2 separate regions of the Homo sapiens genome follow, and region 1 is reported to be linked to region 2. The links are microRNA targets in miRTarBase. Many come from high-throughput screens and were not tested one by one. Region 2 holds a microRNA gene; the other region holds the end of a gene's coding sequence.

Region 1 (4,000 bases), not on the chromosome of region 2:
CAGCCCTCGTCGACCTGGACTCGCTGGTGAGCCGGCCGGGCCCCACGCCGCCTGGAGCCAAGGCCTCCAACCCCTTCCTGCCAGGCGGTGAGTGTGGGCCCATCACCTGCTCAAGTCCTTCCTGTGGGTTCCACCAGAGGAGGTGCCTCACGGGGCAGGGACACTTCGCCCTTTGCCTGCACATGCTGGATGGACACAGGTGGGCTGCGCCACTGACTCCACTCCGTGTCTCTGGTTTACTCTTCCTGCAGGAGGCCCAGCCACTGGCCCTTCCGTCACCAACCCCTTCCAGCCCGCGCCTCCCGCGACGCTCACCCTGAACCAGCTCCGTCTCAGTCCTGTGCCTCCCGTCCCTGGAGCGCCACCCACGTACATCTCTCCCCTTGGCGGGGGCCCTGGCCTGCCCCCCATGATGCCCCCGGGCCCCCCGGCCCCCAACACTAATCCCTTCCTCCTATAATCCAGGGCGGAAGGGGGCCTGGCTCCATCCGGCTGCCCCATTCCGGCTCCCTGGGAGATCAGTGTTGTGAGTGCATGTGAAATGGGGGATCCCCACCCCCAGTGCCCTTCCCCTTCCTGGGGCCCACTCACACTACACCCTCTTCCTTTCCCACCCCACCTCCCCGGAGAGAAACTGGACATGGGGCCTGGGGAGGGGAGCTGGCCAGAGGAGGACCCCTTTCCCGTGGCATTAGAAGGGGGAGGGGTGGCTGGGGCCCCCACCCATTCCCCCTCCCTCCAAACTCCCAACCCCCAGTCAGTGTTTGAGCCTCCTCGTTCCCCTCACGCACCCGCTCACGCACCCTCGGTGAATCCTTGGTGATGATTTTGGCAACTTTGGGAATAAATGGCAATTCCCACGGGCTTGGCACTCCCAGATTCCCATCTGTGATTTCGTGTGTCCCCCAGAGCCCCTTCATCCAGGGACCCAGGGCTCAGGTCACATCTCTTTCTCGGGGGTGGCTGGCAACCAGCCCCTCTGTCTCAGAAGCCCTGATTTCCCTGACCCTCCCAGGTCAAGGGATGGCTGGGTTGAGGGTGGACTGTGCGAGGCCTGGCGGAGCTGTAGCCCACACAGGTCCAGGTGGTCGGGAGGCCACTCATGGCCAGACGCTTCCGGTGCAGGAGGCCTTGCTCTTGTGTTGAGGGGACACCAGGATGAGGTCAGAGAGTGCACTGGGGTTCAGGGAGGAGAAGAATCCTGAGAGATGGCACATGTGCAACACAGGTCACCGTCGCCATCGCCCGGGCCCACCGCAAGCATCACTAATCCATCCCTGCACTCCTGGAAAGCCGGGTCAGCCTCTGCCGGCTGAGCTGAGTGGACCACCAGGCGCCTCCTGGTTGTCCTCTGTGTGCTGTTTTCCTCTGTGTGCTCTTGTCCTGGGCTGGACCACACCTGGTGAGACTATCCGGGAGAATCCTCGGGCCGCCTTGTGAGGGGGGTGTTGCTGTCATCTCCAGGGCTAGGTGACAGCTTGTTGCAGGCCCCACAGCCAGGGCCTCAGGGATGGGGATCTGGCCATGTCTGTTTTAAGCCGAACAGGCTGTTCTTCCATGTGGAGTCTCCCTCCGTGATCCCCTGGGGTCAAGTCCTGACGGCTGGGTTCGCTCCCTCAGTGACTCCGACAGCTCTTGTCTCAGAGGTGCTGGGGTGAAGGCTGTGTGGGGCCAGGCCCCTGGGGTCAGACTTCTTGCCCCTTCTGCCCGGGGGACGCTCTGGGCTCAGGGTGGGGCCAGACAGCTACATCACAGGGACACTTGTTATGGGTCGGGGTCCAGGGAGCACCCAGCCAGTGGAGTGTTGGAGGCCACTGAGAGGGACATGACTGCGGTGTCCGAGCAGCGTCGTGGCCACCCTGTGTGCCCACTCCCTGGTGGACAGACCTACGTCACCTGGGGATTGCAGAGCAAAAGGAGTGCTGTTGGGGTGATGTGAGGTTGGGGTTCTGTTTCTTGCTGTGAATTGGGTCATGACCTGTGTCGGAGCGTTCTCTGGCCTCCACTTGCCCCTGCAGACCAGGGTGTCTGGAGGGTTGTCGGGGGCTTGATGGAGGAATTGCTGACCACACCATGCAGGAAGAGGTGGGTCCCAGGGACACAGGAACTTTGGGGTCAGCCGGTTCCAGATTCAGTTGCAGAGGAGCATCCCCCTTGCTTAGCCAGGGAGGGGAAGCCCTCTTCTCACACCCGGCCTGGGTATGTTGTGGGAGAGTCATTTCCCAGGAGGAAATGGGGACTGTTACCGGGGGAGGGGGTGCTGTCCCCAGGCAGCAGCAAGCGTCCCTTACGCTTGGGCTGTCCGAGACCCTGCTGCTCTAGGCGGTTGTGATGGGGGAGCCCCACAGGGCACAGAGAGCCAGCTGAAGGCGGCAGCTCTGGGTGGGATCACATGGAAAGGGGAGGCGAGCCGAGCCTCCCTCTTGCCAATCTTGGTCTCCCCACAGGGTCATAGCTCCTGGGCCCCTCACTTGTCAGACCCTCCATTCACCAAATTAAGGATAAGTTTCACGATTTCGCACTGCGGAGCCTGCACTCCCTTTCTCTTCAAAAAAGCTGAGGACGAAGATAAAATGATACAGTTGGATTAGTCCAGTGGAGGGGTTAAAGGTGTGAGGCTTTAATTCTCCCCACCATTTCCTCATTTGGCAAAACAGAGAAGACAGGATTGAAAAACAAGACAAAAACCCAGAGGCTTGCACATAAATTTGGGGCTTAACTACAGCATCTTCGGCATCTTCTTTTCCCTACAGTGCGAATTACAAAGTAGCACCACAGATCTCGTGTCTCCTACTTTATTCCTCTTTCTAGAATATTCCAGCCACCAAAGTGCTCAGCAGGAGCTGCTGTGTAGGAGTCCCCCATGAGGCCCAAGCACCTGAGCTTAGTGACATACACGGTTGAACGCTGGGAGAATGCTGGGAGCCTGCTGTTGTCCCCGATTGAGGGCTCCCCCCACTGTGTGTGTATCACTCTTTCTACAGCAGATGTGTCTCTCTCCCCACAGTGGGATGGCGAGCTTGTTAAATGGCCGTGAGGAAGACTTTATTCAGGACCATCGAGACAGGTACAGGTACCATCAGTGGATGGAAAATCACTAAGAGCAAACCTCAGGGGTCCGGGGGTTTTCGGCTAAACCCACCTAGCAGGATTCTTGCTGAAGGCAGGCCAGGGTGATCAGAGGTCACCTGGGGATGGTGGAGGCTGAAGAAGCCTATCAGATGTGAGGGTGGCGGGGGTTGGGGGGGATGGCGGCGGGGTTCATTTGCTGAAAGGATTTTACAAGGGCATGCACGGATGGGCCTAGGAGGAGGTTCAGATCCCTCAGGTTTGGCTAAGCAAGAGTCATGGTGGTGCTCCCGGCTGGCTCTCAGGAGCAGATGTGCTTCTGACCCGACGTCTTCCCCCAGAGAGGGCTGAAGTGGAAAAAACCCCAGAATTTCTCCCTGGGACAGGTGAAGCGATGGGGCGTGGGACATTCCTGGGTCTCGACTCTGTTCAGGGCCTAGGGGTTGGGTGGGGAAGGCACTTGAGGGAACCTTCCTGGAGCCCGTAGGAGCTTCATCCGAGCTCCTGGGTCACCCCGCCCACCAGAGTCCAGGCCCACCAGAGTCCCCTGCCACCTGTGCTCACCCTAGCCTTACCCCTCGCTCTACTCCCGCCCTCGCCCTATCCTCGCTCCTCGCCCTACGCTTGCCCCTCGCTCTGGAGCTGCGATGCCAGCCTCAGGGCTTTCAGTCCTGCCTTGATCTTTTTTTATACTGAAACTCAATTTTACACACACAAACCCACTCCCAGCCAGCCTCTGCCTTTTGCCTTTTCCTCATGTTCTCATTGAATAGGAAGAAATGCCCTTTTTTTTCCCCCCTAGAAGGAGTCTTGCTCTGTTGCCAGGCTGGAGTGCAGTGGCACGATCTCGGCTCACCGCAACCTCCACCTCCCGGGTTCAAGCGATTCTCCTGCCTCAGCCTCTCGAGTAGCTGGGATTACAGGTGCCCAC
Region 2 (4,500 bases):
TTTTTTTTCTGAGACAGAGTCTCACTCTGTCACCCAGGCTGGAGTGCAGCAGCACGATCTCGGCTCACTGCAACCTCCGCTTCCCAGGTTCAAGTGATTCTTCTGCCTCAGCCTCCTGAGTAGTTGGGATTACAGGTGCACACCACCACACCGGCTAATTTTTGTATTTTTAGTAGAGACGGGGTTTCACCACGTTGGCCAGGCTGGTCTCGAACTCCTGACCTCAAGTGATCTGCCTGCCTCGGCCTCCCAAAGTGCTGGGATTACAGGCGTGAGCCACCATGCCCAGTCAATTTTTGTATTTGTATTTTTTTTATAGAGACAGGGATTCGCCGTGTTGCCCAGGCTGGTCTCAAACTCCTGGACTCAAGCAATTCACCCACCTTGGTCTCCCAAAGTGCCGGAATTACAGGCGTGAGCCACTGTTCCCAGCCTAGAATTGGCATTTGAAAGTCTTTTAAGGCTGTAGCCACCTGGGAGGCTGTGTGCTAATGAGCACAGAATCTTTGGCCAGGTGGTGGGTACTCGAAATTCCAGCTACTCAGGAGGCTGAGGCAGAATTCAAGCAAGGAAAATTGCTTGAACCTGGGGGAGGTGGAGGCTGCACTGAGCCCACTGCGCTCCAGCCTGGGCGACAGAGCGAGACTCCATCTCAAAAAAAGAAAAGAAAAGAAAAGAAAATTGTCATTTCTCCATTTCACCTTTTTCTAACTTTAATTTTTAAGTGAGTCTGACATATAACAGAAAGTTAAATCCCAACATGCTCAATTGAGGCCACACACGGTGCTAGTGCCAGAGCTTGACCTCTGTTTCTCTGGCTCCTCCCTAAAGCACAAGGACATCGAAGCTCTTGTAGGGGCGGCCAGCCTCTCTGGAACCATGAAAGGTCCTATAACTTCAAGAGCTTCCATCAGAAAAAAAAAAAAAAAAAAGAAGAAGAAATAAGAAAGCCAGGAACGGTGGCTCACACCTGTAATCTCAGCACTTTAGGAGGTCAAAGCAGGAGGACCACTTGAACCCCAGAATTCGAGACCAGCCTGGGCAACATGGCAAACCAAATCTCTAAAAAACATTTAAAAAATTAGCTGGGTGTGGTGGTGCGTGCCTGTACTCCCAACTACTTGGGAGGCTGAGGAGGGAGGATTGCTTGAATCCTGGAGGTTGAGGCTGCAGTGAGCTATGATTGCGCCACTGCACTCCAGCCTGCACGACAGAGTGAGACCTGTCTCACAAAAAAAAAAAAGTTACTTAAAAGCTAAATTATTTTTAACTTGAAATGTTCCATGGACTTCACGAGTAAATGTTCTGGATTTGCCAAGCAGTTTTGATTTCAATTGGCCTGTCTCCTAATCATACACAGACTTACCTAACACAGATTCTGATTTTCAAGGGGTTAAGGGTGGATCAACCCAGAGTTAACCAACAGCAGGTCCTAAAATTCAGGTATGTCTGGCAGCAAACATCCTCTGTGGCATTTATAAACTCCTACTACCCAGGACGATCCACACCTGATTTACATTGGCTGCGGTCAATGCTGCTGTTTTCAGGAATATCCCTGGGTTGTTTCATTTCAAATCTACCTATTATTTCTTCAAGTGCTAGACCTGAAGAATTTTGGAAAATTAAGATCACTCCTAAGTTTCCACACCACCACGCAACTGGCAGCTAGCATCCCATTCTCTGAAATGCGGATGTTGTACAAATACTTTTTATAATAAGCTATCTGCTCAGCGAAAGTTTCCAACATTAGATGGCATGAAGGTCATAAGTAGCTCAAAAACCACTCTCTTAAAAGGAAAATAAGAACTCCTAAAACAGCCCTCCTCCCAAAAAAAAGGAAGTGGACCTTTCTGGGTTCCCTGGTTTACTAACTGGGCCTTTGGAGCTGTTCTCCTGACCAAGCCAACCCCATAACCACTCAAAAGGGATTTCCGTAGGTAGAACTTGCAAATGGTTAATGAATCAATGCCTTCTCCATAAAGCAAGACCCAAGGAATTACAGCAGTGAACAACGGTGGGGATACTGGATCCCCCAGAGGGTTCCATAAACGTTCTGCTTACAAGGAGGATTAAAGTTCTCGATGCCACTCTCTGGGACCCTGTCTTGATCCTCAGAATCTCAACCCTGTGGGGAGAGCAGGGTGGCTGTCTTACTACCAGACCCACTGATCAGAAAACGGAGGCTCCAGGAGGTATCTTGCTTGCCAAGAATCAAACCAGGGCCACCCAGTCCAGTCCTGTCTCCTTTTGTGCTGGCATCATTCTCCAGCTTGGCCAAGCTCAGAGGCAAGGCAAGGCAAGGCTGCAGCTTTAAGGGTTTAAGAGAGGAGACAGCCACTTTCATTGAAACAGCCCCAAACTCCTTATTAGTGGTCACCAGTTTACACAAGGGTAACTCGTTTTGAAAAACAATACGCAGAAAGTCGAAGTCAATCAAGCTCACTGAAACCTCTACTCTCCTCCCCCTGGCGCCCAAGAGACCTTGAACTCTTACCCAATTGCTCCCCCGATCTAAGGGTGTCCCGGCTCCCCCAGGAGATCCGGGTACCTGTGTTGTGGGGGCCGCCGAGACACCTGACTGCGAGGGGCACTGCCCTCAGGGATGCAGGCCGGGCTGGGGGGCTCCCGTGATCCATCGACTCAGCCCACCTGATGCTGCAGGGTTAGATTCGGGTCCCATGAGCATGCATCGAGCGCCTCTCACGTTAGGTACCCCCAGAATTCGCTGCCTCCCGAGGCCCATTCATCGTACAGATGGGGAAACTGAGGCTCGGAGAGTTAAAGTGGCTTAGCCCGTGGGGGGCGGCGGCGCGGGGACTGGACCCCGAGCCCTGAGATACCGAGCCCTAACCCTCAGCCGAGGGCCTGCCGGGCTCTCTCGGCCCAAGCTGTGGAAAAGTCGACCCTCAGGCCGCCGCGGGAGATCAGCTCTAGGGGAAGGGCGACGCGGAGGAGGGCCGGGGTGGGAGCCATGCCTTCCGCCCGAGCGTCGGGCCAGACGCGCAGTGCCCAGGCCCGAGGGCCCACCCCGACGCAGAGAGCCAGGCGGCCGCGGTGAACTGAGGCGCCCGGCAAACCCCGAGTCTTGGGGCCCGACCTCACCCACCCCGCCGTCGCCGCGAAAGATAGCACTCACCGCTGGCAGCCCGGCTGCTCTCTGCGGGCACCTGGGCAGGGCTCAGGCCCACACCACTGAGGCGCTACCACCGCCTTCGCCGGCCGCGGGGGTGGGGGCGTGGCCATTGGGCCGCCGCCCCGCCCACTCGAGCCGCGCGTGCATTCCCGGAGCCCCGCGCTTCCCCCTGCAAATTTGCGCTCTTGGTACGGCCCGGCCCGGCCACGCCCCCTCGCGGCTCGGCTGGGTCGCCCGGCAGAGAAATGAAAGTGCGTGGTTCCGGGGGTGGCGGAGTCGCCTGGAGACGGCGGCTGCGGCTTCTACAGCTCGGACCCTGCAGGTCACCGGGCCGGCTGCCCACCTTCCCGGGGATCACTGCAGAACTGTGGCTGTGCGCCCGCCGGTCTAGCCTCCTCCTTCGGGCCGCCGCTTGCTTGTGATCGCCACATTGTCTCCTCCACGGCCCTGTTTCCTCACCTGAAATTGGCGAGGCTTCAGGCCCAAGTCGTCTCCCTGGGTTCCCTCCATCCAGCCTGACGGCGGAGGGCGCGCGTTTGTTTTTAGAGACAGGGTCTCGTTCTGTCGCCCAGGCTGGATTGCAGTGGTGCAGTCACAGCTCACTGCAGCCTTCAACTCCTGTGCTCAGGCGATTCTCCCACTTCAGCCTCCCAGTAGCTGGGACTACAGGCGCGCCACCACACCTAGCTAATTTTATTTTATTTTATTTGCAGAGATGCGGTCTCGCTATGATGCCCAGGTTGGTCTCGAACTGGTCTCAAGTGATCCTCCCTCCTCGGCCTCTCAAAGCGCTGCGATTACAGGCGTGAGGTCCCACACGCTGCCTAGAGCTCGCTTTTGAAGGCCGGCCTGTTGGGGGTGGGAAGTGACCAAGCAGGAGGCAAGCCCTGGATGGAAGAGGAGTGGGGGGATACAGAGAGCTTCTGGGGTTTGAAAAGTCTGGCAGCCTTGGTTGGGGAGTGAAGCCCACCTCTGCCTCCTGCTATGGTTTCTACTTTACAGGGTCATGAAGATTAAGTGGTATAACCTTTGTTCCTAAAGGATTTAGAGCACGGCATTACTAAGTGTTCTCATCGCCATTGTTATTATTACTACTACTACTATTATTACTAGCTGTGCTGTGAATTCCTTTTGCAACACTGTGCAACTCACTTCTCTCAGAGCCCCTTCTCCATCTTTTAAAAATAGCCCAGGCACGGTGGCTCACGCCTGTAATCCCAGAACTTTGGTAGGCTGAGGTGGGCGGATCACCTGAGGTCAGGAGTTCGAGACCAGCCTGACCAACATGGCAAAACCCCGTCTCTACTAAAAATACAAAAATTAGCTGGGCATGGTGGCGGGTGCCTGTAATCCCACCTACTGGGGAG

What was found. Region 2 holds the annotated microRNA hsa-miR-4651 (CGGGGUGGGUGAGGUCGGGC, at 3,091-3,110, opposite strand). A microRNA usually pairs through its seed, bases 2 to 8, with sites in the 3' UTR of a target mRNA and lowers its output. Matches are read on the target gene's strand: a 7mer-m8 pairs with bases 2 to 8, a 7mer-A1 pairs with bases 2 to 7 and ends in A, and an 8mer does both.
Region 1: the mRNA of EPN1 is a reported target of hsa-miR-4651. Seed matches in the 3' UTR shown: 7mer-m8 at 553-559 and 8mer at 611-618.

What each region holds. Positions count from the first base shown.
Region 1 is chr19:55,694,897-55,698,896 of GRCh38, forward strand. EPN1 (epsin 1) reads left to right here. Exons shown (of 11, transcript NM_001130072.2): 10 at 1-87; 11 at 252-4,000. The coding sequence ends at 460. Among named protein-coding and RNA genes, the nearest start is that of EPN1, 22 kb to the left of the region's middle.
Region 2 is chr7:75,913,816-75,918,315 of GRCh38, reverse strand. MIR4651 (microRNA 4651) reads right to left here and starts at 3,119; the gene lies at 3,047-3,119. It overlaps POR (cytochrome p450 oxidoreductase), which reads right to left and starts at 3,161. Exons shown (of 16, transcript NM_001395413.1): 1 at 3,137-3,161. It overlaps LOC124901680 (a long non-coding RNA gene), which reads right to left. Exons shown (of 2, transcript XR_007060393.1): 2 at 3,822-4,020. RefSeq lists a silencer at 2,954-3,443 and an enhancer at 3,704-3,753.